Homo sapiens: one gene and its partners. The protein of the gene in region 3 purifies or fractionates together with the protein of the main gene of each other region. This does not show direct contact. Each region holds a gene or a part of one and is shown on either strand. Other genes may lie near its edges. The genes, in order: XRCC1, SLC38A10, EFNA2, TMEM132A, ADGRG1, POGLUT2 and RPP30.

Region 1 (3,500 bases), about 42 Mb from region 3:
CCCAGCACAGGATAAGGAGCAGGGTTGGCGTGTGAGGCCTTACCTCTGGGAGGGCAGCCGCCGACGCATGCGGTGACAGTCCAGCACCCACTCCTTACGCACGATGCGGCCTCCCAGGCCTAGGACCTGGCTGTACTTGGGGGTGTTGGCAAAGGCACAGCTGGTGGGGGGCAGAAGTGAAGATGCCAGTTAGGTGTGATCTGAGGGGCAAAGGGGAACGAGACAGGGGAGACAGACAGAGAGAGAGAGAGACAGACAGACAGACAGATCATGAGATTGAGGTGGGAGAAACAAAAAGAGGTTGGAGACCAAGGGAGAGATGCAAAAATCAGAGAGAAGACAAAGGCTACAGAATGCAGTGAGAAAGAAAGCAAGTGAGAGAGAGAGAAAGCATGCAGCATAGTGGACACAGAGAAAGCACAAGGTGGAGGAGACACAGGGAGCTGGGGGAGAAACTGCAGCGGCGCAGGGAGGGGGGCGCAAGCCTACATGAGGTGCGTGCTGTCCCGGGTCCAGTCTGGCCGATACTTGGCCCCAAGCTCTAGGGCCTTATCTCGCAGCTCGGAGCGGAAGGGGTTCTGGAAGCCACTCAGCACCACTACCACACCCTGAAGGATCTTCCCCAGCTCCTCTGGGCCAGCTCGGGGTCGTCTGGGCTCGGTGCCTTCTCCTCGGGGTTTGCCTGTCACTGCCCCCTGTGCTCGGGCAGGGACTGGGGCTGTGGCTGGGGTACGAGTTGGAGCTGGCACTGGAGAAGACAAAGAGTAGATTAGGTTAGCACCACTGGGGGTCAACCCCCAGCCCCTCCTCCCTCAGACCCAGCAGTCCAGGCCCCAGACCCTCCTCCCTCAGACCCAGCAATCCAGGCCCCAGCCCCTCCCCCCTCAGACCCAGGGGTCCAGGCCCCCAGCCCCTCCTCCCTCAGACCCAGGAGTCCAGGCCCCCAGCCCCTCCTCCCTCAGGCCCAGGAGTCCAGGCCCCCAGCCCCTCCTCCCTCAGACCCAGGGATCCAGGCCCCCAACCCCTCCTCTCTCAGACCCAGGGGTCCAGGCTCCCAGCCCCTCCTCCCTCAGACCCAGGGGTTTAGGCCCTCAGCCCCTCCTCCCTCGGATTCAGGAATCCAGGCCCCCAGCCCCTCCTCCCTCAGACCCAGGGGTCCAGGCCCCCAGCCCTTCCTCCCTCAGATTCAGGACAGCAGGCTCCAGCCCCGCTTCCCCTAGGACACAGGAGCACAGGCCCCTGTGGAAACAAGGGATCTAGTTAGCTCACATTTAGGTCTCTTGGGAACAGATGGCGACAGCTGGGCTGGTGGTTTGCTGGGGGTCTTCTTTTCTTCTTGGTTCAAATCCAACTTCCTCTTCCCTTTGGGAGACTCCTGGGGCTGAGGGGATGGGGATGGATTGAGGCCTCCAGCTTCTCTCCTCCTCCACCCCACCAAAGTCTGATGATTTCACCTTGGAGGTGCTGCCTATGGCCCTGGAGACTGGAGAGGCTGAGGAGGCAGCACTAGAAGCCTGGAGGGTAGCAGCTGCATAGCTAGGTCCTGCTGGGTCGCTGGCTGTGACTATGAAGGGAGAAAGTGGATCCAGGATGAGAGGGCTGAGCCCCAAGACCCTTTCACTCCTATCTATGGGACACAGAATATTGTTGCCAAAACCCACCAGTGATCCAGGAGTCCCAGCCTCCAGACCTCTCAACCCTCAGGACACAAGAGGCCAGGCCCACCTTCCTCCACCCTGAGACCCAGGAGTCCAGGACTCCACTACCCTCCTCCCTCAGACCCAGGAATCTGAGCCCCAGCCCCCTCTACCCTCAGACCCACGAGTCTAGGTCTCAACCCTACTCACTCAGGACCCACGTTGTCCGAGCTCACCTGGGGATGTCTTGTTGATCCGGCTGAAGAAGAGAGCCCCCGGCCTCAGAGAGTTGGCGCTCTCATCCTCCTCCTTCACACGGAACTGGCCAAGCTTGGTCACTGTCACCTTCTAAGGTCCCGCAAGGTCAGTATTATAGGTGGGCTGCTGGCAGGTGGGGGTGGAGAGGCAGGGAGAAGGCCATGGGGAGTGACAGGTACAGCTTACCTGGGACGGGGCCTCTGCCTCATCTTTGTCTGGGGGGCTATGAAACCGTACAAAACTCAAGCCAAAGGGGGAGTCCTGGGAAAGGAGGGGTGGGAGTCAGGGAGTCTGGCCCAAGGACAGAGGCCAGGGCCCAAGACCCTTTTCACTCAGGGAAACCTCTTCCTGGCTCCTTCCCTCTCATGAACACCCATGTTGAAGGAGGGGCCCTGGCGATGGTGATGACAATTATAGGATTAAGCTGTTATGACTGAGCCCTAACTCTGAGTCTGGCTCCAAGCCCTTTTCACGCATTAGCTCTTTGGGCAATTGGCAGAGTCTACTAGGTGTCCCAGCGAATTCACTGCCCTATGCACAAACTCCTGCCTGTGGAATGGGAGGGAGTGCTGCGTGCCACTTCCAGAACACAGAAGTGTTCCAGGCTCTCTCCTCTGCCAGCTGGATGCAGAGCCAGAAAATAGGAGAAGTCTGGGTCCCTGCACGACCTCATAAGGAGAAGCCAGCTGACAGGCTAAACACTCCCCAGGACAGTTACCTGGGCAAGAAGCACACCTTTAGTGTGTGGCATCATCACATACTCCAGTCTCACTGTTACCACAGCTTTTAGCATCCCTTAACCTACAGCAACCCTGTAAGGATCAGGCAATGGAGGCCCAGAGAGCGTAAGTCACTTGCCCAAGATCACACAGCTAAAAAGTGGTATAGCCAGGACGTGAACTCAGTAATCAGACGCCAGATCTCCTGATGTTAACTACTAGGCCCACTCTACTAGGCCACCTCTCTAACAAGTCAGTTCCCCTCCTCCGATTCCCCTCTGAGATGCTGCAGTTCACCCTTCCTAGATTCCTCCGGGAGATGAAACTTCTCATTACAGGAAAGATCCCAAACCCATTTCAGGGAACGCAGGGACCCAGCCTCCCCATAATCCCATGGGACACCAGCTGTCTACTCCTCCCAGCCCTATGGGACTCAATATTGGCCCTTATTTCCCTCCTTGCCCAGGACCAAGGACTCTGCACCCTGGCTCCCACCCTAGGTACCTTGCTGTAGGGCTGGCTGCAAACAATTTTGACCCGGTCCCAGCGCTTCTCGGCGGCTGCCCGGACCAGCTTGTCAGGCCCAAACATGCGAACGCGGTTGGGGTTTGAGCCACTGCGGCTCTCGGAAGGGGACATGAAAGATGAGGTGACCAGAAGGACCTGGGTGGGAGAAGCCACAGTGCATGAGAACCAGGGCAGGTTGGCTTAGATGAGAGCTTCTAGGGGCTGGGGAAGAGGGCACAGGGCCCACACAGGGGACTGGGAGTCACTAGAATGTAGCTTGGGCCTAGATGTCTCCAGACCCTTTGTTTCTAGGCCTTGAGTCAGTCCTGCCCTGACACAGGCCCCAGAGGGATCTCTTTATCCTCCAGATGTGAGCGAC
Region 2 (3,500 bases), on a different chromosome or scaffold from region 3:
GCTATTGTTGTTTGTTTGTTTGTTTGTTTTTTGAGACGGAGTCTCACTTTGTCGCCCAGGCTGGAGTGCAGTGGCGCAATCTCGGCTCACTGCAACCTCCATCTCCTGGGTTCAAGTGATTCTCCTGCCTCAGCCTCCCAAGTAGCGGGGATTACAGGTGCCCGCCACCACACCTGGCTAATTTTTTTTATTTTTAGTAGAGAAGGGGTTTCACCATCTTGGCCAGGCTGGTCTCGAACTCCTGACCTTGTTACCCACCCGCCTCAGCCTCCCAAAGTGCTGGGGTTACAGGCATGAGCCACCACGCCCGGCCGCTATTATTTTTCTAAATGAGAATTTATAATAGGATGGACTAGGGGCCAGCTGTGGAGTTGGCACTGAGAACACGGATACCACCCAGAGCCCCCAGCACACCCTCCATTCTCTGCCAGGCCCCTGCCCATAGGAGCCCCAGGACCCGAGCCCCTGGGACCTTCCTGTTCCCTGGCAAGGTCAGAAATGACCCTTCCTGAGTGGCTGGAACCTGGGTGTCTCACAGCGGGTTTGCACCAGGACGAGGCCAGGTGGTCATTGAAGCCAGGGTCTCCAGTGCTCCTCAGCTCTCCGAGTGAGGGCCAGCCCAGTGGCAGCTACCTCTTTACTCTTGAGACAGCCGCGTCCTGGTGGGCCAGTCTTTTGGAAAATGTCCATGTCTAACACAGTACAAGATGGGGAGGGACCTGCCCACGTGGGAAACCAGCCTCTGTAACCGACGGAAACTGGGGCCATGCATGCTCAGTGGTCTCCTCCCGTCTGCGCCAAGCAGCCCCCTTGCAAGAGCAGCTGCTCTGGTGCCCGCGGGATGAACCAGGGTGCTCTGAGGCAGGGGTTGGGAATCCAGAAAGGCGCGGGGTCTCCCTGCCTCCAGCTGGCGGCACAAGGCGGCACAGGGCGGCACAGGGTGGTGGGGGGCTGGGATGTGGGTGGGAAGAGCTGCACTCTCCTGCCACTCCTTCCTAGCGGCGCGTGGGCCGGGATGCTGAGTCCCGCCTGCGTCCTGACCTGCCCCGTGCTCTCTCCCCTCTCCCTCTGCAGATCGTGCTCTCCTCTCTCAAGCACGGCCTCTTCAGTGGGCAGTGGCTGCGGCGGGTCAGCTACGTCCGCTGGGAGGGCGTCTTCCGCTGCATCCCCATCTTCGGCATGTCCTTCGCCTGCCAGTCGTAAGTGTCCTGCTGTGGTCTGTGGTGGAGTTCTGTGACGGGGAGGGCGAGCTGCTGGGAGACGGGACCCTCTCTTTCTCGTTTACTGTGATCGCTCTTTGCTGGCTGCTAAAGAGTGATGTCTTGTTCAGTGATGACCTTTCCCGCCCCAGGTTGAGGGAGATAGTTATATTTTAATCGGGAGGTAAATCGGCTTCATTCCTGGGACATGTTTGGGACTAGCTGGTGAGAGTCCCTGGTTTGCCAGATCCCCACAAGCAGAGCATTGGCTGTGGGGGATGCAGCAGCAACCCAGCCATCTGACTGCACAGAGTCGAGCGCTTCGCCAGAATTTAGCTGTTCTGAGAATATTTAAAAGGAAATGGCACAAACATTGACTTCAGACGGCTGCTGGATGCATTTGGAGGCCTGCATGTGCGCGCGAGCCTGCTTTCTCTCTGGCACGCAGGGCTCTGTAAATGTGGATCGGGCTCTTCCATAATTCCAGCAGCATTACCTTCTCCACCAAAATGACAAGAGCGAGTGATTCGTGCCCGGTTGGAACATGGTAACCGGCTGAAAAGAGAGGCGTAAATCCGGCGCAGACGGGAAAAGACCATCGGCATGCGGGGGGCTGGCAGAGCGGCCCCTGTAGCGTTAGTGGGCATGCATTGAGCCAATCGTAAACTAATGTGACAGATGAAATTTGTTCATACCGCTGTGTTTACACCCACATGCGAGATCCAAATCGTCATTTCCCACTTAGCGTCTCTCTTGGCAGCTCCATCTCCACCAGAACGCGCCCCAGTCTTGCTGTTTAATATCCCATTATGATCGGTGACAGAAGCCGCATTCTTCCGCCACGTACCTAGTTACCAGTTGCCCTTTGTGTCTGCGTGTTTGCATATTTAGAAATAAATCTGCAGCTGGGGCTTTTTGGTGGTGGCCACGTAGCAGCCGGTGCACCTCGTTCGGGTCTGGTTCCGGAGTCAGGTGCTGGGTTGAAGCGCTGGAGCGTGCGGCTCAACAAGTGCAGCTTTCCTTCTGTCCCGCCCTGAGGATGTGCAGGCCCACGGATTCACCTGACATTCTCCCCAGCAGGGACATCCCTCCTTGTGCTGGCCGCTGCGCTGACCTCCCCACCCCTGTGCCGGCCGCCGTGCTGACCTCCCCACCTCTGAACCCAGGAATGTTTTCTGAGAGCAGAGACATCTCTTCCCTCCCACAGCGTCACTGCACCAGAGTGCCTGTCCCTGTTGGGTGGCGGGCCGCGCCCCCTGCCTGTGTGATTGGCCTGGATGCCAGCTGGGGCCAGGTCTCCCTTGTGCCTTCACTATCTGGCCGTTTTTGGTAAATGCATACCTGGTTATGCAGAATGGTTGTCCTAGGCCCAGAGAAGCAGCCGGGCAGCACTGAGCCCAGGAGGCCCTGGAGGTCAGGGTCTATCTGGAGACCAGGGTCCCCATCCTCACAGTAGGGCAGAGGGGCACACACCCAAGAGCTGCATGTGGATGGCTCCATTTGACTCTGGTAGGCCCTGAGGCTCAGAGGCTGCCTTGCAAGGTGGGCGGGCCAGGGATGCTCCGTCTGGGGCCATGGGCCAGCGCTCAGCATGTCCCCCATCTGTGGAGCTCCTTTGCAGGTGGCCAGGAGGTTTTGTGGCTCCTACCTTGTTTCTTTCCAGGGATGATCCCGGGGGTCCCTGGGGTAGGTGGTCAGGATTGGAGAGGAGCCTGGGGCTTGGCCTTCCACCCTGGCCACCCCGTGTGCGTGGGACACCCCTTCCCACAGTGTCCGTGGCTTCCTTGGGGGTCACTCCCCACAGGGTGTATTGGGGGCTGGGGGTAAGCACGTGTCATGGGGCACCAACGCTGGTCCCCTCAAGCCAAGACTCCCTGGTGTGGACTCAGCTGTGGCGAGAGGACAGTTTAGCACTGGGAAGTTCATGCCGCAACATGGCCTTCTTCTGTAGCTGTGGGTCTAGGGCCGTGGAGACCTCTTGGGTGTTTCTCCTGATTCTCTGCCAGCCTCCTGGGGCTGTGTGCACAGGCGTTGGCCACTTAGCTCCCTTCTAGCCTGGGCCGAGGGGAAGGCTCATGTCCTGCGGGGTCCCCTGACTGCTGCTGATGGCACTCCATGCTGAGGGCGGCCTGATGGGATGGTGTGCTAGGACCTGGGCAACGGGACACCAGCAGCTGCTGGCAGGACCTTCTCACTTGTCAGTCTGCTGGGTTTTCTTTTTTTTGGAGATGGGGTCCTGCTGTGTCACCCAAGCTGGAGTGCAGTGATGCGATCACAGCTCACTGTAGCCTCGACCTCCCG
Region 3 (4,203 bases):
ATCGCCTGGGCACAGGTGCCAGGCCAATGGGCGGAAGGGGCGGCCGGCGACGCTGCGGCACTGCCCGGGCCTGCAGGCCCCATCGAGCACACGGTCCCCTGGTGCCCACGCTGCTGTCTGCCCCCCATCGCGGCTGTCCCCGTCTCCAGTGCCTTTCTGTATGCCCCTCTCAAAGACTTGGGGTCCCCGCATCCCCCACACACCTGCCCGACCCCATCATCCCTCCCCGGCCAGCCCAGCCTCACACCTTAGGCCTGCCGGCTGACGCCACTCCTCTCCCCAAGCCGATGTCCCCTCCACAGGGTCCCCTTGGATACGGAGGCCCAGCACCACCCCCTGCTGTGCCTGACACCCCCGCCACTCAGGCACAGGTCCCGGGCAGGTGCCCCTGGACACCAAATCTGAGAACTGCAGAGACCCCTGATGTCCGCGACAAAGCCCTGATTCTGGCTGGATCCCGGCTTCCCGGGAAGGTGCTCACCCAGCCCTGGGCCCCACTGCAGGGTGTCGGCTCCGTCCCCAGCAACCCTGGATACCGCAGGCAGGAGAGGAAGGAGGAGGCAGCCTCGGTGCTGCCCAGGTCGGCTCTGCGGACCAGCAAGGCCGTTCCCTCAGGCAGCGGTTTGAGCTGGGCAACCAGGTCAGACCCGGAGCAACAGGAGGTGGCTGGGCCAAGCCAGGCACTGGGGAGGCCACTTCCTTCCCCTGGCCGGGGGTCCGGCCCGCAGCCCACAGCCCTGTGGCAGGTGGGGCAGCAGGACGGCCCTGGTGACCACCTTCCTCCCCCGGTTGCCGGGTCCTCGTGTGTTTGGCGTTTGCTAGAACAAAGGACAGGCCACGCTGGGGACGGGAGATTCCGCAGCTGAAACCAAAAACTTGGGCCGGGGAAGCGCTGCCCGCTGGACTCCCCGCACGGCCAGCGACAGCCTTAATCAAACCCACATGTGACCAGCACAGCGGGCGGCTCGGGGACCCGCTCTGAGGTGGGCCAGCCGTCCCCCAGCGGCCCGGGGTCCCTGCCCTCAGCCCCCAGGGCCCGACCCGAGGCCGTTGACCAGGGTGGGGGGTGGGCCTGTGCGTGTTCCCCACCCCCACGGCGGAACACGGGCCGCCCTTGTCCCCGAGCCCGCCTCAAAGAGACCCCTTCATGCAACTTTCCTCCCGGGGACCGAGGACAGCAGGAGACAGAGGGGACAAGGAGGGGTGGCGGGCTCCAGAGGGCGGCTCGGTCGGCACAGGAAGCGGCTGGAAAACGGAGAGAAAGTGACCAGTAGCAGAAGAGTGGGGGGGGGCCGCCTCAGCCCCCGATGTGCAGCTCCGTGTGCCTTAGGAAGACGGTGACACCCTGAGTGCTGGGGCTGACTCCCTCCCGAGCCCCAGGACCCCCAAAGCCCCGGCTCCCACGGGACCCCCAGGGAAGCTGCAGCCTGCTCCTGTCTTGGAGACCCTGGGATGGTTCAGAGGGTTCTACCCACGTCCAGGCCATGGCCAGGCCCCGGCAAACTTTTTTTGCTCTGACCAACGGGGGCTTCTCCTGTCCCCCACGTTGTGCCTGGCCCGGACCTGGTTCAAAACAAGGGGGCCTGCAGCAGGCGGGTGCGGCATCTCGGCCGGGCGTGGCAGGCAGGGCACTGGGCCACCTGGGTCCTGCCCCCAAGTCCCCCCCTTGCATGACCTTGAGCCAGCTCCTCATCCCCTCTGCACCTCAGTTTCCTGGTCAGCGCCCAGAGGACAAGAGAGGACTCCATCCCACTGCCCCTCCCGGGGCTGACCCCCAGCTCCCCGGCCCCTCAGTCTCCTTTCAAAGCTGGGCCCTTGGCCCCCTGGAGTGAAGCAGATGCTGGGTCCTGAGGGAGGGACACTCCAACTTCCCCAAGTTCATCTGGGGACCTGCGGGCAGGACGAACCCAGAGATCCCTCGAGGGCCACAGTCCCCCACCTCCGGTGCCAAGGTCCCCGGGGATCCCCACCAAATGCGAAACCGAGGGGGCTCCCCAGAGAAGCGGGTGGATCAGGGGTCCCCCCAAGTCCAGGCAGGCAACTCAGGGGCTACCCGGCATCGGAGGGTACCAGAGGGGTTCCCCAAACTCCAGGAGACGTCGGCGCTCTGGGGGATGTGGGGCGCGAGTCCCCACAGTCCGTAGGGCAATGGGGCGCCCCGGGGAAGGCAGGCGCGAAAAGGGCGAGTCCCCCAAACTCCGGGGGGCCGGAGCTCCCTGGGGGGCTCCCGCGGGAACCGGGCGCCCGCATCCCGGCGGCGGCGCGCGCGTGGGGGGCGCCCGGAGCTCCGGGGGCGCGAGGCCGGGCGCGGCTTGGGGGGCGTTGGGGGGTCCCCGGGCGCCCCCCGCGCGCGGCCGCGCTCACCTGGGGTTGCTGCGGTTCCAGTAGACGGCGTAGCGGTCCGAGTTGGCGCGGGCGGCGTCCTCGGCGCGCGCGAAGGGCGGCGGCGGCAGCGGTAACAGCAGGAGCAGCAGCGGGAGCAGCGGGCGCTGCGCGGGCGCCATGGCCCCGGTCCGGCCGCCGCGCTCGCTCTCCCGGCCGCCGCCTGCCAGCCTTCTCCGCCTCCTCCGCCGCCGCCGCCGCCGCCGAGCGGGCGGGCGGAGGGCGGGCGGGAGGAGGGCGCGGCGGCGCTTGGAGATCCCGGGCCGCCCCCGCCTCCGCGCGCGCGACCTCGGGCGCCGAGAAGTCAGGCGGCGGCGGGGCGGGGCGCCGGGGTCGCCCCGGGCGCAGGACCCGGCCGCGCGGACTGTCGGAGCGCGGGCCGCCGCCGCCGCACCCGCCGGGGAGGGGCCCGGGCTCCGGCCTTTGTCCCGCCCGAGCGTCGGGAGGGCCGCGGGCGCCCCCTCCCGCCGTGCCCCGGCCGCGCGGGGACTGGGCGGGGGTCTCCAGCCTGCGCCCGCCCCCTGCCCCGGCCCACCCCGTCTCAGGCTCGTCCCCCGGGGCCTGCCCCCAGCGACCCCGATTCTGCGCGCCCCCCGCCGGCATCCGCGTGGCCCGGCCTGGGGTCTCCGAGGGGCGGGGGCGCACCCTGCCTCCCGCGCCCCCACGCGCTCCACCCGGCCCGGCCCTGGGTCCCGGGCCTCTCACCTGCCCGGTTCCAGCGCTATCCGCAGCCTCACCAACCCCGACGCACGCGTCCCAAATCGGGCTCGGCCAACTCCAGTCTCCCTGCGGGGGCCGGGGCAGAGTTTCAGAGGGGCGCTGGCCAAAGTCCAAAGCTGCTCGGGCTGCGACCTCCCTGGGGCCCTCCTGGGAGTCGCCTCTCCGGACCCACGCTGTTCCCTGGGGATGGAGTAAGTCCCTACACCTCAGCCCTAAGGGTGCCGGGAGCATAGTAGGTGGACCGATGTGGAGTGTGAGCAGCTGGGGATGGGATCCAAGAAGCCCAGAGTGAAGCCCCGGCCGACAGCAAATCAGTCTCCACGCACGAATCCTGCAGGCAGGGGAGGGCCGCTGCCCGGGGGCACAGCTTGTGCAAAGACCCGGGGTCTGATCTGTTCAGGGAACGCCGAGTGATTTCTCCTCCTGGTAGGCTGACACAGGTGGGGAACTGGGGGCCTGGCCTCTGCTTTGTCTTTTTTCCAATCTATAGAGACAGTGTCTGGCCATGTTGGCCACGCTGGTCTTGAACTCCTGGGCTCAGGCGATCTTCCCACCTGGGCTTCCCAAAGTGCTAGGATTACAGGCGTGAGCCACTGCACCTGGCCTGCCCTCTGTTTTTGCCCTTATTCATGCCACAGCCTCCCTCACCAGACTCTGAGCTTGTGGAGGGTAGGCTGTCATCAAACGCTGGCTGGACTTTGCTGGCGATGCCCAGATCGTGTTGTACGTCTCTGAATTAGTGTCATTCACCAGGCCCAGTGCAGGAGAGGGAACTGCAGGGCAAGCACCAACAGCCCTTGGACCCGAAGGTCCCTGTGTGAGGCATTACCCAAACTCCTGGCAGGGACCGTGAACCCAGAGATGGGCAAGCTAACCTGTGCCCCAGCAAGGTGGGGTGGGGACCGGACCCACCACCGTCCCACAGCTCTGAGACGTGGTGGGCTCTGTCCTGTGTCTCCTGCGTGCCCTCCTCCCCCGATTCCCCAGCGGGCCACGCGGGCCACACCACCTGACCTTTGTTCAGGCTGGGTCCTGCTGGGAAGTCCTTCCACTTTTTCTTCCTGTTAAAATCTTGCTCTTCCAGAAAGGTCTGTCCCACCC
Region 4 (3,500 bases), on a different chromosome or scaffold from region 3:
GGGATGGAGTAGTGGCTATGAGGGCTCTACCTGGGGCACAGGATTGGTTGGCATCTCTTAGAATAAGACTCACAGACACTTGCTATGCCTGGCACATGGCTGGGGCTGGGAAGATAGTGGCCGAATGAATGAATGAAGGAATGGATTATGCCTGCTTTGTGCTGCTTCCTTGAAAAAATCTGTCCTTGGGTCTGCTCACCTGGGGATCTAGAGGCAGCATGGCAGCCTCCAAATCTGCTCAACTGCACTCTATAACCAGCCCTCCCTCCTTTGCCCCCTGGGTGGAGGGAAACTGCCCACCTGGAATCTGGCTCTGTGAGCCCAGCACGGTGGCAGGTGATGAGGGTGGTGTGGTGCCTGGAGCCCTTGAAGCGGTCCAGCTTGGCAGTCCAGAGTGTGGGCTGGGCTGGGCGGGCGGCTGTCACATGCAGCCCCTTCTTCACCTTGATCCTGGGGAAGAGAGTATAGGCTCAGTTTGGCAAGGTGCATGCTGAACTGTGGGCTGGATTGAAGGGGAAAGACAAGGAGCCAAAGCCATCTGACCTCCCTGGCTCCAGTCTGAATCTCCTCTTCACCATCCTCCAACCCAGAAGGACCCCGCCTCAGTGCAGCTCACACCTTACAGCTCTCCCCCACCCAAAGACCACTTACGCCTCCCCACTGCCCATAAGGTCAAAGCTTAGCCGGGCATTTGGGGGCCCTCCAGGGTCTGGTCCAGCCTTAACTTCGGTTGTGACATCTCTCCATGCACTCTCTGCTTCAGCTACACACAAGTTTCCCACACACACGGCACCCATTCGTGACTCCAAGCCTTTGCCCAGTCTGTGCCTTCAGCCTGCTCTGCCCTTTCTTACTTTACCTGCTGATGCTTTAAGCCTCCAACAACTCACAGACCATTTCCTTTAGAAAGCTTTTCCAGTGGTGGGATGAATTTCCCCCTTACTGCACCCACTCACCTGAGCTCCCACCGCACTTTGAACCTCCCTCAGTGCTTACACACCCACATGCCTTCTAATCCAATTCATGCCCATCCAGCTCCCTTCCCTACCACTGGGGCCCCTTTCTGCCAGATAGGGACTGGCCCTTGCTCGTGTTTGGATCTGCAGAGTGAAGACACAGGGCTTGGCAGGCTGTAAGTGTCTAGGAAAGATCTGCTTAATAAGAGTGAGCATAGGAGGGCGTAGGAGATGGGGAGACACAGAGACGGGACATGCACAAACCCAGGCAGGGCTTGAAACTAGGTCTAGGTTTCAAAGCATGTCCACAGACCGCTCTTCGATCCTCAGGAAAGATATCATTACAAAGTGAGCAAGTCCCAGTGCCTCACCCTAACCAAGCCCAGGACTATCCTGCCTAGAACTCAGGCTTCTCAGAATCTTAAAGCCTAAGAGATGCCTCTCCCATGGATTCCTGCGCTGGACTCCAGAAGCAAGTCATACTCTGCAAGCCCTTGCCGGGTGAACTGGGTAGGTGGGTGGGGGCTGCTTTGGGGGAACTTATTACGGAAAAGGACACAAAGAATCAGGGCCTTCCTATGGGGAAGAGCAAGCTCTGTCCAAAGGCTAGACTCCTACGGCGAGGGTGGCAAGGAGGGACAGCATGTAGGTGAACGTGATTGGGGCAAATATCCCTCTCTGGAGCACTGGAGCAAGAGCTCACACTTAGGTACTGCAGTCTCTAAGCCCTTTGCGGGTTCCCCTCCCTGGAGACTTGCAGCTGCCCTGAAGGTGGACCGTTAGCCCCATTGGACAAAGGAATCTCAGGGAGGTGCCAGGGGAAGGGGCAGCTTCCTACTTCTGACTCTAATTCCAGGGCTGTGCCCATGGTGGGCTCCTACCAGCACAGTCATGGCTTTTTACCTGGAAGGAGTTTAGTTTGGTGGACACATGTTTTGCAGAGGTCAAGGATTCCAGCAAGGACCCCAGGAGGAGCAGGTACCTGTCCCTAGTCTTCCCACAGAGGTTCCCACCCTCACCCATCCCCGTGGCCTGGTGCTCACCGCAGGGTCAGGAGGCTGGCTGTGAAGTTGTGCCGAAGCAGGAGGGTAGCACTAAAGAGCTGGCCGGGCCGCACTGGCATGTCAGGCACCCGCAGAGTCACAGCCTCGTCCAGAGGTACCTCCTGGTACTGCGGGGGGTCTGCTGGGCGCAGCTCCACACCCCCCACTGGGAGGGCCTGCTCCCCAGGGTCGTTCTCCTCGCCGGAGCCACAGCCCCCAGGGCCCTCAGCTGCAGGCTCAAGCGTGTAGGCCAGCTCGGCCCGTGTGGTGGAGGCCTGTGAGAACCAGTGCGAGGGAAGCTCCAGCTCCACCACGCAGGCGCCCAGGGATGGCTGTGAAGACACGACAGCAGTAATTGGCATGGGGGTGGGTGCAGGGCGAGGAACAGGATTCTCAGCACCCATGGCAGGAAACCCAGAGCTGGAGGGGCTCATGAAAGGGAGGCCCAGCATGGGCCGGAGACACAGCCTGAGTGACACAGCAAACCAGCAACCTGGCTGGGGCTTCAAACCAGGTCTAGGTTTCAGAGCATGTCCGCAGACCACTCTTCAGCCCTTGGGATAGGTCTCATTACAAAGTAAGCCAATCCCAGGGCCTTACCCTAACCAAGCCCAGGACTATCCTGCCTAGAATCCAGTCTTCTTCTCAGAATCCTAAAGCTCAAGAGACGCCTCTCCCATGGATTCCTGTGCTAGACTCCAAAATAGTGGAAATAGCAATTATAAAAGTAACACTACTAATAATGCAAACACACTGGCTGATTGATTACTCTGCCGTAAGCTATCCTTACATTCATCTCACTTGTTCCTTACTCCAACTCCAGATGGGGTAGGAATTCTTAACACCCCATTCTTCAGATGAGGAAACTGAATCTCAGAGAGATTAAGTTACTTACTCAAAGTCACACACCAAGGACTGAACTCCCTCTGGGGCCCTAAATAACCTTTTCACAGCACTGAAAGCTAGTGGGGGCAGAAATGGAGTCGGGTGGTCCACAACCCCCGCGCTTCCCAGGAGTGGGGGTTTCCTCTCTGCCGCGGGCCCACCACCTGGCTGATGCAGCTGCAGCAGGACCAGCCTAGGTGGGGCCTGTCTACTCACCTGGAAGCGGCAGGCTTGGTGAGCAGTGCCGGCAGGGTGTGTGGCATGGAGCCGGGCACAGGGCAGGCTGCCAGACCCTGGTGGCCAATCCTGCCCTTTGAGGTGGAAGAGAACCCGGGCGTAGGGCTCTGCTGGAGTCACAGCCGCTTCCACTGAAACGGCCCGCACGTCCCATGGGACTGGCCGTTGGTGGGGCTCAGTGACTCGAGGGGGGACCACCTGGAGGGAGAATGAGAGGGCTTAACAAAAGAGGAGCTTGGGAGGGGAAGATCTAGGAAGATGGGATCCCAGCTTGGCAGAAGAGAACCTTTATGGGCCTCAGTTTCCCCCTCTGGAATATGGGGAGCACAGCCGGGGCTGGGGAAGGCTCCCAATTTGTACCCAGCAGACCTCAGGCCCT
Region 5 (3,500 bases), on a different chromosome or scaffold from region 3:
GACCTCCACCACGAGTCGGTAGAGGTTGTACCCCTCGAGGCCCATCCAGGAAAGGCAGGTGAGCAGGGAGAAGTGCAGGAAGATGGCACTGGCTCGGCAGCCAGCCTCAGAGCCTGTCAGGGCCACCGGCTCGCTGAGCAGGAAGCTCGTGTCCAGCAGGAAGACGGCCAGCAGCAGGTTCATGTGCACCTTGATGGTGTAGTCCCGAGGTTTCCTCCTGCACGGCAGGGGCACCCTGGTGGGCCAGTGTGGGAAGGTAGAGAGGGGAGTGTGCCCACATCTCCTCCAGGAAGCCTTCCCAGACTGCCCCCCACCCCGACACACACATGCAGTCATACATGGCCCCTATCCTATTCCTGTGGCTGCAGCCAAACTGTTCCCCACATCCCCCTGTGCACCTACTGTGTGCCCAGCACCCACAGACTCAGGCACCACGTGCACGTTTAACAGAAGCCTCAGCCAGGCAGAGCGAGGAAGACAACCACAGTAATAAACCAGATACTCTCAAAGTCAGAGCGGAAACACTTTGGCATTTTCACCATGTTGGAGAATCCATGCCATCCACATTCTGTGTCTTCCCGTCTGTCTGCACAACTGTGCACCTGTGAGTCTGAGTGTGGGCTGCCCGCATCGGTCTGTCTGAGGTTTGCAAGTCAATGTGTGCACACCCCACCCCACCCCCACTCCAGGATTCTACATGGCCCTAGAGGGTGCAGCAGAACATGCAGGCCCCAGTGTCACCATCCTGGAGTCCCACCCTGCCCTGCCCCTAACTCATGGCACCATCTTCAGCTGGTCCCCTCCCCTTGAGACTCTCAGTTTGCCTATCTGTGAAGTGGGAGGATGGTACCCTCATAGGGTTGGGGTGAGAGTTACACTGACACAAAGCATCTGACACAGATAAGGTGCTCAGTTCCTAAGGGTTCCTGTGCTGTGTCCTTGGGCATGTTTGTGAGCAACTGGGTGTTGAGGACTTCTGCCTCCACCCCCAGCCTTCCGCCGAGCCCATCTCATCACCCAGCTGTCCTTCCTCATCACCATCACCTACTTAGCTCCCCAGGTACACAGCTGTGCACACACAGGACAGTCATATAGGCACACACGTGCTTGTGCACACGCATAAATACAGCTTCACTTTCCTCTCCTTCCTCGTGGCTGGGGACAGTGAGAACCGAGGGTGCCTCTCCTCTACCCAAATGGGTTCAGCGCTGAGGGCAAGTGGACCCCAATTTAGGCCAAGCCAAGCACTGACAATCTGACCTCTGCCACTTCCTTGCTGTGTGACCTCAAGCAAGTCACTTACCCTCTCTGAGTGTTCCTTCATAGGGCTGTTGTGAGGATGAATTGAGTTCACACATGTAAAACACTTAGAACAGTGCATGGCACACGGGAAGTTTGACACACGTTAAGTATGATCATTACCGCTGTGATATTATTGTGTCCACCCAGTGCTCTCACAAATCTGCTTATTCAAAGGCAGAAATGAAAAATCTTTCCTTTTTTAAGTTTTTTATTTTGCTTTCCTGTCTTACTCTAGGAAAGAAACAGATTCTTAGGTGGACTCTCTCAATTTTAAATGTTGACAATTAGCCTGGCACAGTGACTCATGCCTGTAATCCCAGCGCTTCGGGGGGCTGAGGTGGGTGGATCACTTGAGGTCAGGAGTTCGAGACCAGCCTGAGCAACATGGTGAAACCCCGTCTCTACTAAAAATATACAGATTAGCCAGGTGTGGTGGCAGGCGCCAGTAGTCCCAACTACTCAGGAGGCTGAGGCACAAGAATCACTTGAACCCGGGAGGCAGAGGTTGCAGTGAGCCGAGATCATGCTACTACACTCCAGCCTGGGCGACAGAGGCAAGGCTCTGTCTCAAAAAAATAATAATAATAAAATAAAAATAAAAATAAATAAATACAATGTCGACAGCTAAAATTTGTAAATACTATGTTATCCAAACACCACTGATCTGAGGAGGAGACGTGGCCCCCAAGGGTCAGCTTACCCCAAACAGCTCCCCTAACCACACACACAGTTCCAGGTCATGCGGGCGGGCCATGACCGGAGATGTGTGCGGCGCCCTGGTGGAGGTGTGTGCAATGGAGGGTCCCCTCCCCTGTCCCACCCCTTTCAGGCCTCACCTGGAGCAGAGGTAGGCGGCAATGGTGACAAGGCAGGCCAGGGCAGAGACGACACAGCCCACGTAGGAGAGGAGGCTCAGGTAGTGCTTGTGCACGGCGTCCACCTCCACCGAGGAGACCTGGCCCCAGGAGACAGGAGAGAGCTGGCCTCTGTGTCCCCCACACAACCTGGAGGCTTGCCCTGCGTGAGGGGCTAACCTGGGGTCCCTGGTGGGCCTCGGAAGCCTAAGAACCCCCTCTCCCAACTGAGCAGAATGTGGTCCCATAAGTGCATTTTTCTGGAGTGGGGGCATCTTTAGATTTGACCACATTCTCAAGCGGCTTCCTGACCCACAGAGGCCAAGAACCCTTCATGAGAGAACCCCTATTCTGTCCTGGCATTGATTATTCTTCTATAACATTTAACATGGGAATAGGTTTCCTGTGAGGGAATGAGATTCCCACACCCAGGGGTGTTCAAGCCCCAGGTGGATACCCACAGGCAGAATCCTACAGTCCTGGGAGCATGAATTCTGAGGTCTTGGGGGCACTGGAGGCCACCTCAGGGGCCTCATTAGAAACACTCTTGGCCCCATCACTGCCAAATCAGAACCCTAGGTGAGGGCCAGGAATCTGCATTTTCGTACACACCAAAATTTGGGAATAAAGAGCAGGGGCTCTACAAACCAGCTCTTTCACTGACTAGCTGTGTGGCCACGGGTAAATTGCTTAACCTCTCTGAGCCTCCATTTCCTCATCTATAAAATGGGACAACAATAGAAGCTACCTTGGAGAGCTGTTATGAGGAATAAATGACTGAATATATGAAAAGTGCTTGCACAGAACAAGCACACGGCCTGGGGTGTGGCTGCGAGGTGGGAGCAGGGACCCTCACCATCAGCACTGCAAAGTAGGTCAAGTGGTTGCAGAAGCAGGATGTTTGGGTTTCTCTCCTGACGGTCTCACACCCAGCACTGCTCCAATGCCCCGGGCTGCTCACTGAGGAGGGGACAGCACGGGGCTCCAATCAAGTCCAGTCCTCCAGGACCCCACTGTGTCCACCCCCAAAAGCACGACTGTGTCATTCTTCCACCCGGCCTACTCATAGCCTGCCATCGCTCTCTCTTCAAAGTCCTCCTTTCTCCAGGAAGCCCTCGGTGATTAACCCCACCTCCCCCACCCCCCAGGACTCTATTTCTCTTCCAGATACTTGTCCAGCCCAGAGACCCCTGCATACTCACATGTGGGGTCTTCAACCCAGAACACACATTGCAGAGTCACATTCTTCTGTAGGGACAAGAAAGGAGAGTGGTTTCTGTGACAGCCCCCCACCCCTCCAACTTTACAGGCCAGGCAGAGGAAGTCTAGAACACAGTCAAGCCA
Region 6 (3,500 bases), on a different chromosome or scaffold from region 3:
CCTGCAAAAGATATGCTGAAGTCTTAAATCCCAGTGTCTCAGAATGACCTTATTTGGAAATAGGGTTGTTGCAGATATTAGTTAGCATGAGGTCATACTGGAGTAGGCTGGGCCATTAATCCACTATGCTGTGTCCTTATAAGAAGAGACCCAGAGACATGAGGGGAGAAGCCCACGTGATGACAGAGGCAGAGATGGGAGGATGCAGCTGCAAACCAAGGAACACCAAAGATGGAGGGCCACTGACAGCAGCCAGGAAGAGGCAGGAAAGGAAAGGAAAGGATCATCTCAGAGGGAGCTGGCCTCCTGACACTTTAATTTTTTTTGGGGGGGGACAGGATCTCACTCTTGTCACCCAGGCCTTGGGAGTGCAGTGGCGTGATCTCGGCTCATGCAGCCTCGACCTCCTAGGTTCAAGCGATCTTCCTGCCTCAGCTCCCCATTAGCTGAAACTACTACAGGCTAATTTTTGTATTTTTTGTAGAGACAGGTCTTCACCATGTTGCCCAGCCTGGTCTCAAGCTCCTGGGCTCAAGTGATCCACCCGCTTTGACCTCCTAAAGTGCTAGGATTACAGGCGTGAGCCATGGCACCTAGCTGACACTTTGATTTTGGACATCTGGCCTCCATAACTGCCAGAGAATACATTTCTGTTATTTTAAGGCTTCCAGTTTGTAGCACTTTGTTACGGCAGCCCTAGGAAACAAACGCAGGTACCTGAAATAACAGAAAGCTTCAGAATAGTATTATCATAAGGCTCCAGAAGAGAATACCCTGATAGTGTATAATTTGTATTTTGAAAAATTATCCTGTAAAATCTGGGCTTAAATTATCTATTACAGCTAAGAGAAAATATATACTTACCTTTCTAGTCAAAGAAAGTAGTATGGCATCCATGAAAATTCTAAAACCTACATGTTCACCATGAGTCTTGATATAAACCTAAAAGAGAATTTACCATTTATTATGTTAGTCTAAAGACGCTGGCAGACTTCACTGAGGAAAAGCTTGTCACAGTGCTCATTCGAATGATGTTTATAAAATGATTTAGCTAATTGTAGCCAAATGTTCAAAACAAGAAAAAAAATCACTAAAACAAACAAGCAAAAAATCATGTGTTGTACCTTGTTATCCTTTAAGGTGTAGTGACATAGGCTCTGCCTCTGTCCAAATCTTTTTGGGATTTCTACTGCAATCTTTTCTGGATCCACAGCAGGGAAATGTGCCAGATCTCTCTGAATCTGAGCAATGGTTTCAGGGCAGTTCATCTCCCGTAGCCAGGCTGCACTATCTTGCAGAGGACAGTCACAGTTCTCATGGTAAACCGGCCCTATTTACATAAGAATAACAAAGTACAACAGTGATCATTTCACTCAGCATTCGAAACTTGTAATAAACATCTATAATGTGGCTTCATGAATTTTGCTTAGTTACATAGGAAGAGCATTTTCATTGAAAACACATTTTAAGAGAATTACAGGCCAGCAAGGTTGGCTCATGTCGGTAATCCCAGCACTTTGGGAGGCTGAGGCAGGAAGACAGCCTGAGCCCAGGAGTTCGGGAGCAGCCTGGGCAACACAGGGAGACCATGTCTCTACAAAAAATAAAAAATTAGCTGGGTGCGTTGGCATGCACCTGTGGTTTCAGCTACTTGGGAGGCTGACGTGGGAGGATCACTTGAGCCCAGGAGGTTGAAGCTGCAGTGAGCCATGTTTGCGCCACTCCATCCTGGGCAAGACAGTGAGAGCCCGTTTCAAAGAAAAAAAAAGTAATACATTTTTACTATACTGGGGCATTGCAAGTAAGTCAGCCTTCTACTCTGACAGCTCTTCACAGTGAAGTTTTGTGATATTTTCATAATAATAAGGTCTACTTTGCATGAGTTCAAAAGAAAGGAAATAGAGGCTGGGTGCAGTGGCTCACGTCTGTAATACCAGCACTTTGGGAGGCTGAGGTGGGTGGATAACTTGAGGTCAGGAGTTTGAGACCAGCCTGGCCAACATGTTGAAACCCCATCTCTACTAAAAATACAAAAAAGTTTAGCTGGGTATGGTGGTGTGTGCCTGAAATCTCAGCTACTCAGGAGGCTGAGGCATGACAATAGCTTGAATCTGGGAGGTGAAGGTTGCAGTGAGCGGAGATTGTGCCACTGTGCTCCAGCTTGGGGGACAGAGTGAGACTCTTGTTTCAAAAAATAAAAGAAAGACAACAGATACTTGGTTTATGTCTATGGTAATATTACAGCTCATTATTCCTTATGTTTTGCAGACTGAAGAATAACCAAATACTGGTAAAAGGGTATCAGAGGAGCATACCTATTTTAATGAAAGACAAAAGTGATATGATTTACTATTTTGATGGTCTGTTATACAAACAGGTTCTTAAAGTGTCTAAGGTACTTTTCTCAATAAGTAAATCATCAATAACAGCAAAAATAAACAAGGAACTGCTATTCTTTTTTTTTTTTTTTTTAAGAATTATTAAGGAGGAAAAGTAGGCTGGGTTCTTGGCTCATGCCTGTAATCCCAGCACTTTGGGAGGCTGAGGCGGGCGGATCACGAGGTCAGGAGATCGAGACCATCCTGGTCAACATGGTGAAACCCCGTCTCTACTAAAAATACAAAAATTAGCCAGGTGTTGTGGCGCGTCCCTGTAGTCTCAGCTATTTGGGTGGCTGAGGCAGCAGAATCGCTTGAACCCGGGAGGCAGAGCTTGCAGTGAGCCGAGATTGCACCACTGCACTCTAGGCTAGTGACAGAGCGAGACATCGTCTCAAAAAAAAAAAAAAAAAAAAAAGCAAAAGTAGCTGGGTACAGTGGCTCACGCCTGTAATCCTAGCACTTTGGGAGACTGAGGTGGGCAGATCACTTGAGCTCCAGGGTTCGGGACCAGTCTGAGCAACATGGCAAAACCCTGTTTCTACAAAAAATACAAAAATTAGTGGGGCATGGTGGTGAGTGCCTGTAGTCCCAGCTACTCATGCAGCTGAGGTGGGAGGATTGCTTGAACCCAGGAGGTCGAGGCTGCAGTAAGCAGTGATTGCACCACTGCACTCCAGCCTGGGCAACAGAGCGAGACCCTGTCTCAACAACAACGGCAACAAAAAGAAGCAAAAGTAATTCTCAAAACAGTCCACTTCACTAATTTTATAACAAATTAATTACAGTCTGCACTGAGGTTTTTACTGTTATTCCTTTTTATAATTCTCAGATCCCACCTAACCCAGGCAGTGGCTGACAATGGAATATCTTTTTAAGGTTTAGTGGGTGATACTGTACCAGGCTGTACTGGCAGAATGTAGGAAAGGAACCTAGACACTCTTGAAAAGTGTTTACCTTTTCTTACTTCTCTGCAGAGTTCACAAAAATAAAAAAAAAAAAGTTTACTTTTCTTGGGGTTGTTAAGGGGGGGACAAGATTTCTGCCTTTGTATATACACTGCTTCCCTACTGTCTTGTGGTACTGTCGCCTGTAAGAGGGAAGGAGATGGCTCTAGGTAAT
Region 7 (3,500 bases), on a different chromosome or scaffold from region 3:
GAAGAAACTGACTATTCTAAAACCCAAGGAAAAAATAAGCCAAATGGAATGTATGCATAGTCCATTTATCCCACACACTATTTATTGAGCAACTCTGTGCCAAGAATTGTCCCAGGGCTGTGGCTCCTATCAAGTCTACTGAGTAGCTAAAGAAATATGAACACAGCACCTCATGACATTTGTTCAAATACTAATAGAAGGAATCTACATAAATAGTTAAAGCAGAGCTACTACAAAGCAAATGATAATGAATGCATTTTCTCAACTTTTAATTTCCCTTTCTGTTGTTTTAATTTTTGCTATGACTTGTTGAGTAATACTCTGCATTTTCTTCTCAAAGAGATTTGAAACTGTTTATGAAAACCACATACAAGATAAAATAAACAGATAAGAAAATCAGGATAAATGGAAAATCAGGGAAGAAAAATAAAGCTGGGAAAAGGTTACTAGTGTAGAGGGCAAGCCAGAAGACACTGCTGGAAGAAACATACCTGGCTCTGATTTTGCCATTATTTGATTTATAGTGATAAAAATATTTGGCTGTTATGTATTACATTAAAAACAAAGCTTACTGACAATGCTAGTGTGTACAGGCTTGACAGACAAATTCAAACTTCCAGGATGGCTACGCTGACAAACAACATCAGTGGCATGTACCAGGGGAAAGGGCAGAGTAAGGAAGAGTGGAGAAAATGACCTATAGGATTGGTGCCAACCTTCGGCAATGACAGGAATACCGTATCTTGCCCTTTTTCTTCAGAATCCCCACTTCAGTCACTCCTACTCCAACCCCAGGGCTTTAGGAAGTAGAGATCAGAGGCTGGCTAGCTTTAAGACAGTCATAGTAACTTAGTAAGCCTGGGAAGCAATGTTGTTTTGGCAGAAATACTTGGCTCATAAAGAATCTGCCCCATCCCAACTGCCACAGCTGTCCAACTCATAAAAGAGTCACTGAAAATTTAATAAGAGTGGATGAAGAAAAGCTCTGAATGATAGCTGAAACAAATTCAGCTCTGTTCACCATTTTTTATCGATCATACTGGCAAAGATAAAAAAGTTTGGTACTACCTTGCTGACATGAGAATGAATGAACAGGCACTCAAAAGGTCTTTAAATCAGTATAAGGTCTTGAAAAGCATTTTAGCAATGGCTACCAAAATTTTAAATGCACACACCAACAATTCTACTTATAGGTATGTAGTAGGTATAAGTGGAGTCTCCTATAGAGAAGTCTCTATAAGTGCAGAGACTCTAAAAATATATTACGTAGCTATATACCCTACAAAGGCTCAGGGGACATTAGTACAATGACAGTCATTGCAATACCAATCATGAAAGACTAGACACAATTAAACATCCCTCAATTTTACTTCAATTATGATCCCTTTATATGATGGAATATGCCAACTCATTAAAGGAAATGATGTACATCTCTAATGGATATTATGGAACAACCTCTAAGAAACTGTAAGGTAAAAGAAGCATGGTGTTAGGTAGGAAGGAAAGAGGAAGGGAGAAAGGGGAGAACAAAGGAAAAAAAGACGAGGTAAATAATATTTCTAAAAAGATACACAAAAACTATTACTAGTGGTTGCTTCTGGAAAAAATGGGGAAGGAATTTTAGGTGGAAGTAAGGCATACTTTTCAGTACCTTTGTACTGTTTAAATTAATCATTGTGAATGTAAATTATTTCTTCAGTTTAAAAAGGTGATTAATTCTTTAAAAGCCTGTTAAACATTCTCCCCAGAATAAAGCTAAATTAGGTTACTTTTTACTTACACATTGTTCCTTTCTTCCCTTTTCCTACATAAGAGTGGCCAATTAAACAATGGCTCTATGTTGGTTTAAGTACGTGCAAATACATGCATTATAATAAACTTTTAGTTACAAGGGACAGCTCCACATGGCTCCCTCTGACACTTCAACCTTAGAATGCCCCAAACTGAATTATTTTGTTATTTAGTTTTCTATTAACCAAAATGTTCAATCAATACTTTTAGATAACCACAAAATAAAAGTTAATGTTCACACTACAATGAAACGCTTTCTATATCATTTTAGAAGATTAAATTATGCCCAATAGAGCCTTGGGGTTAAGAATCTTATAATGGTTTTCTCTGAAAACTAGTAGGTTACATAATAATTCACATCAGTTGTCCATACCAATTTTTTTTTTTTTTTTTGGCCAGAGACTCCTATGACAATTTAAAGAAAACGTATTCCCATAAAAATGCACACATATATACACATCTTTGCCTCTATGGCACAAAAGGAATAGGACTGTAGGGGTTCATATTCCTCCCTGAATCCCTTTCAAAGGTATCAGTTTGATAAATTGTGAAGAGACAATCAGGCTTACCAAGGAAAAAGAGAGATGCCCATCAACAGTGGCACTCAACTTTAATGTGTACAAAACTCCCCTAAAGAATGTATCAAAAATGGAGACAACCAGGCCCTACCTCCATTGATTCATTAAGTATGGCCTAATGATCTGCATTTTAATAAATATCCCAGGTAATTCTAAAGCCAGTGGAGCCAGACCATACTGCAAGTAACACCAGGACACTCCCTTCCTCAAGACACTACAACAGTCCTCTGCAAAGGAAAGGCATGAATTTCAGGAGCAGGAAGAAAATAAAACTTTTATTTCCATTTACTTTTATTTTTTAAAAATAGAGACAGGGTCTCACTATGTTGCCCAGGCTGGTCTTGAACTCCTGGCCTCAAGTGGTCATCCTGCCTCGGCCTCCCAAAGTCCTGGAATTACAGGCACAAGGCACTGGATCCAGCCTCCATTTACTTTTTTCTTTGAGACGGAGTCTTGCTCTGTCATCCAGGTTGCAGTGCTGTGGTGCAATCTTGGCTCACTGCAAGCTCCGTCTCCCGGGTTCACACCATTCTCCTGCCTCAGCCTCCTGAGTAGCTGGGACTACAGGTGCCCGCCACCATGCCTGGCTAATTTTTTGAATTTTTAGTGGAGTCGGGGTTTCACCGTGTTAGCCAGGATGGCCTCTCGTGATCTGCCTGCCTCGGCCTCCCAAAGTGCTAGGATTACAGGCGTGAGCCACCATGCCTGGCCCATTTAATTTTTAATTCACTATCTTAAGATCTGTTTTGTGTGTATGTAGTTTTTATAAGGCACACTGGTATAATGAGAGATGCGAATAATTTATAAGAAACATATATATATTTGGAAGCAGGCTCAAAAATTTTTTAAACTGATAGGGTGCACAATCAAAGCAGGTTAGAGACCACTGGACTAAATAACCTGAATTCTCCTCAACCTGCTCAGCTGCTTTAAATCCTAAATGGGAATAATTAATTGGTCCAGAAGCTCCAGAAGCTTCTATGCAACTCTCTCTCTGTGTCATATTCCACAGCTGTCCCCCATCCCAAGGAGCCCTAACCAATGGACCCCCTCAAAATCTTTAATCTCTGCCTTATCTCCTTAAGTAGCTATGGAGAGGGAGTTTCTATGAGACATCTTCCGGATACTCTG

Evidence for each region.
Region 1: the proteins of EFNA2 (region 3) and XRCC1 purify together in Homo sapiens (affinity purification with mass spectrometry; one large-scale study listed by BioGRID and IntAct). This does not show direct contact.
Region 2: the proteins of EFNA2 (region 3) and SLC38A10 purify together in Homo sapiens (affinity purification with mass spectrometry; one large-scale study listed by BioGRID and IntAct). This does not show direct contact.
Region 4: the proteins of EFNA2 (region 3) and TMEM132A purify together in Homo sapiens (affinity purification with mass spectrometry; one large-scale study listed by BioGRID and IntAct). This does not show direct contact.
Region 5: the proteins of EFNA2 (region 3) and ADGRG1 purify together in Homo sapiens (affinity purification with mass spectrometry; one large-scale study listed by BioGRID and IntAct). This does not show direct contact.
Region 6: the proteins of EFNA2 (region 3) and POGLUT2 purify together in Homo sapiens (affinity purification with mass spectrometry; one large-scale study listed by BioGRID and IntAct). This does not show direct contact.
Region 7: the proteins of EFNA2 (region 3) and RPP30 purify together in Homo sapiens (affinity purification with mass spectrometry; one large-scale study listed by BioGRID and IntAct). This does not show direct contact.

The regions. Positions count from the first base shown.
Region 1 is NC_000019.10:43,551,528-43,555,027, forward strand, and holds part of XRCC1 (DNA repair protein XRCC1), read right to left. Parts: intron 3,278-3,500; coding exon 3,119-3,277; intron 2,157-3,118; coding exon 2,082-2,156; intron 1,986-2,081; coding exon 1,874-1,985; intron 1,565-1,873; coding exon 1,455-1,564; intron 1,382-1,454; coding exon 1,270-1,381; intron 749-1,269; coding exon 490-748; intron 161-489; coding exon 44-160; intron 1-43. UniProt on the Homo sapiens protein: Scaffold protein involved in DNA single-strand break repair by mediating the assembly of DNA break repair protein complexes. Negatively regulates ADP-ribosyltransferase activity of PARP1 during base-excision repair in order to prevent excessive PARP1 activity.
Region 2 is NC_000017.11:81,278,308-81,281,807, reverse strand, and holds part of SLC38A10 (solute carrier family 38 member 10), read left to right. Parts: intron 1-1,074; coding exon 1,075-1,199; intron 1,200-3,500. UniProt on the Homo sapiens protein: Facilitates bidirectional transport of amino acids. May act as a glutamate sensor that regulates glutamate-glutamine cycle and mTOR signaling in the brain. The transport mechanism remains to be elucidated.
Region 3 is NC_000019.10:1,284,470-1,288,672, reverse strand, and holds the start of EFNA2 (ephrin-A2 precursor), read right to left. Parts: upstream 2,801-4,203; 5' UTR 2,505-2,800; coding exon 2,365-2,504; intron 1-2,364. UniProt on the Homo sapiens protein: Cell surface GPI-bound ligand for Eph receptors, a family of receptor tyrosine kinases which are crucial for migration, repulsion and adhesion during neuronal, vascular and epithelial development.
Region 4 is NC_000011.10:60,927,460-60,930,959, reverse strand, and holds part of TMEM132A (transmembrane protein 132A isoform b precursor), read right to left. Parts: intron 3,320-3,500; coding exon 3,101-3,319; intron 2,332-3,100; coding exon 2,000-2,331; intron 451-1,999; coding exon 301-450; intron 1-300. UniProt on the Homo sapiens protein: May play a role in embryonic and postnatal development of the brain. Increased resistance to cell death induced by serum starvation in cultured cells. Regulates cAMP-induced GFAP gene expression via STAT3 phosphorylation.
Region 5 is NC_000016.10:57,656,130-57,659,629, reverse strand, and holds part of ADGRG1 (adhesion G-protein coupled receptor G1 isoform b precursor), read right to left. Parts: intron 3,405-3,500; coding exon 3,359-3,404; intron 3,117-3,358; coding exon 3,013-3,116; intron 2,258-3,012; coding exon 2,139-2,257; intron 236-2,138; coding exon of another isoform or gene 218-235; coding exon 1-217. UniProt on the Homo sapiens protein: Adhesion G-protein coupled receptor (aGPCR) for steroid hormone 17alpha-hydroxypregnenolone (17-OH), which is involved in cell adhesion and cell-cell interactions.
Region 6 is NC_000013.11:102,792,477-102,795,976, forward strand, and holds part of POGLUT2 (protein O-glucosyltransferase 2 isoform 1 precursor), read right to left. Parts: intron 1,331-3,500; coding exon 1,125-1,330; intron 945-1,124; exon of another isoform or gene 943-944; coding exon 865-942; intron 1-864. UniProt on the Homo sapiens protein: Protein glucosyltransferase that catalyzes the transfer of glucose from UDP-glucose to a serine residue within the consensus sequence peptide C-X-N-T-X-G-S-F-X-C. Can also catalyze the transfer of xylose from UDP-xylose but less efficiently.
Region 7 is NC_000010.11:90,881,974-90,885,473, reverse strand, and holds part of RPP30 (ribonuclease P protein subunit p30), read right to left. Parts: intron 1-3,500. UniProt on the Homo sapiens protein: Component of ribonuclease P, a ribonucleoprotein complex that generates mature tRNA molecules by cleaving their 5'-ends. Also a component of the MRP ribonuclease complex, which cleaves pre-rRNA sequences.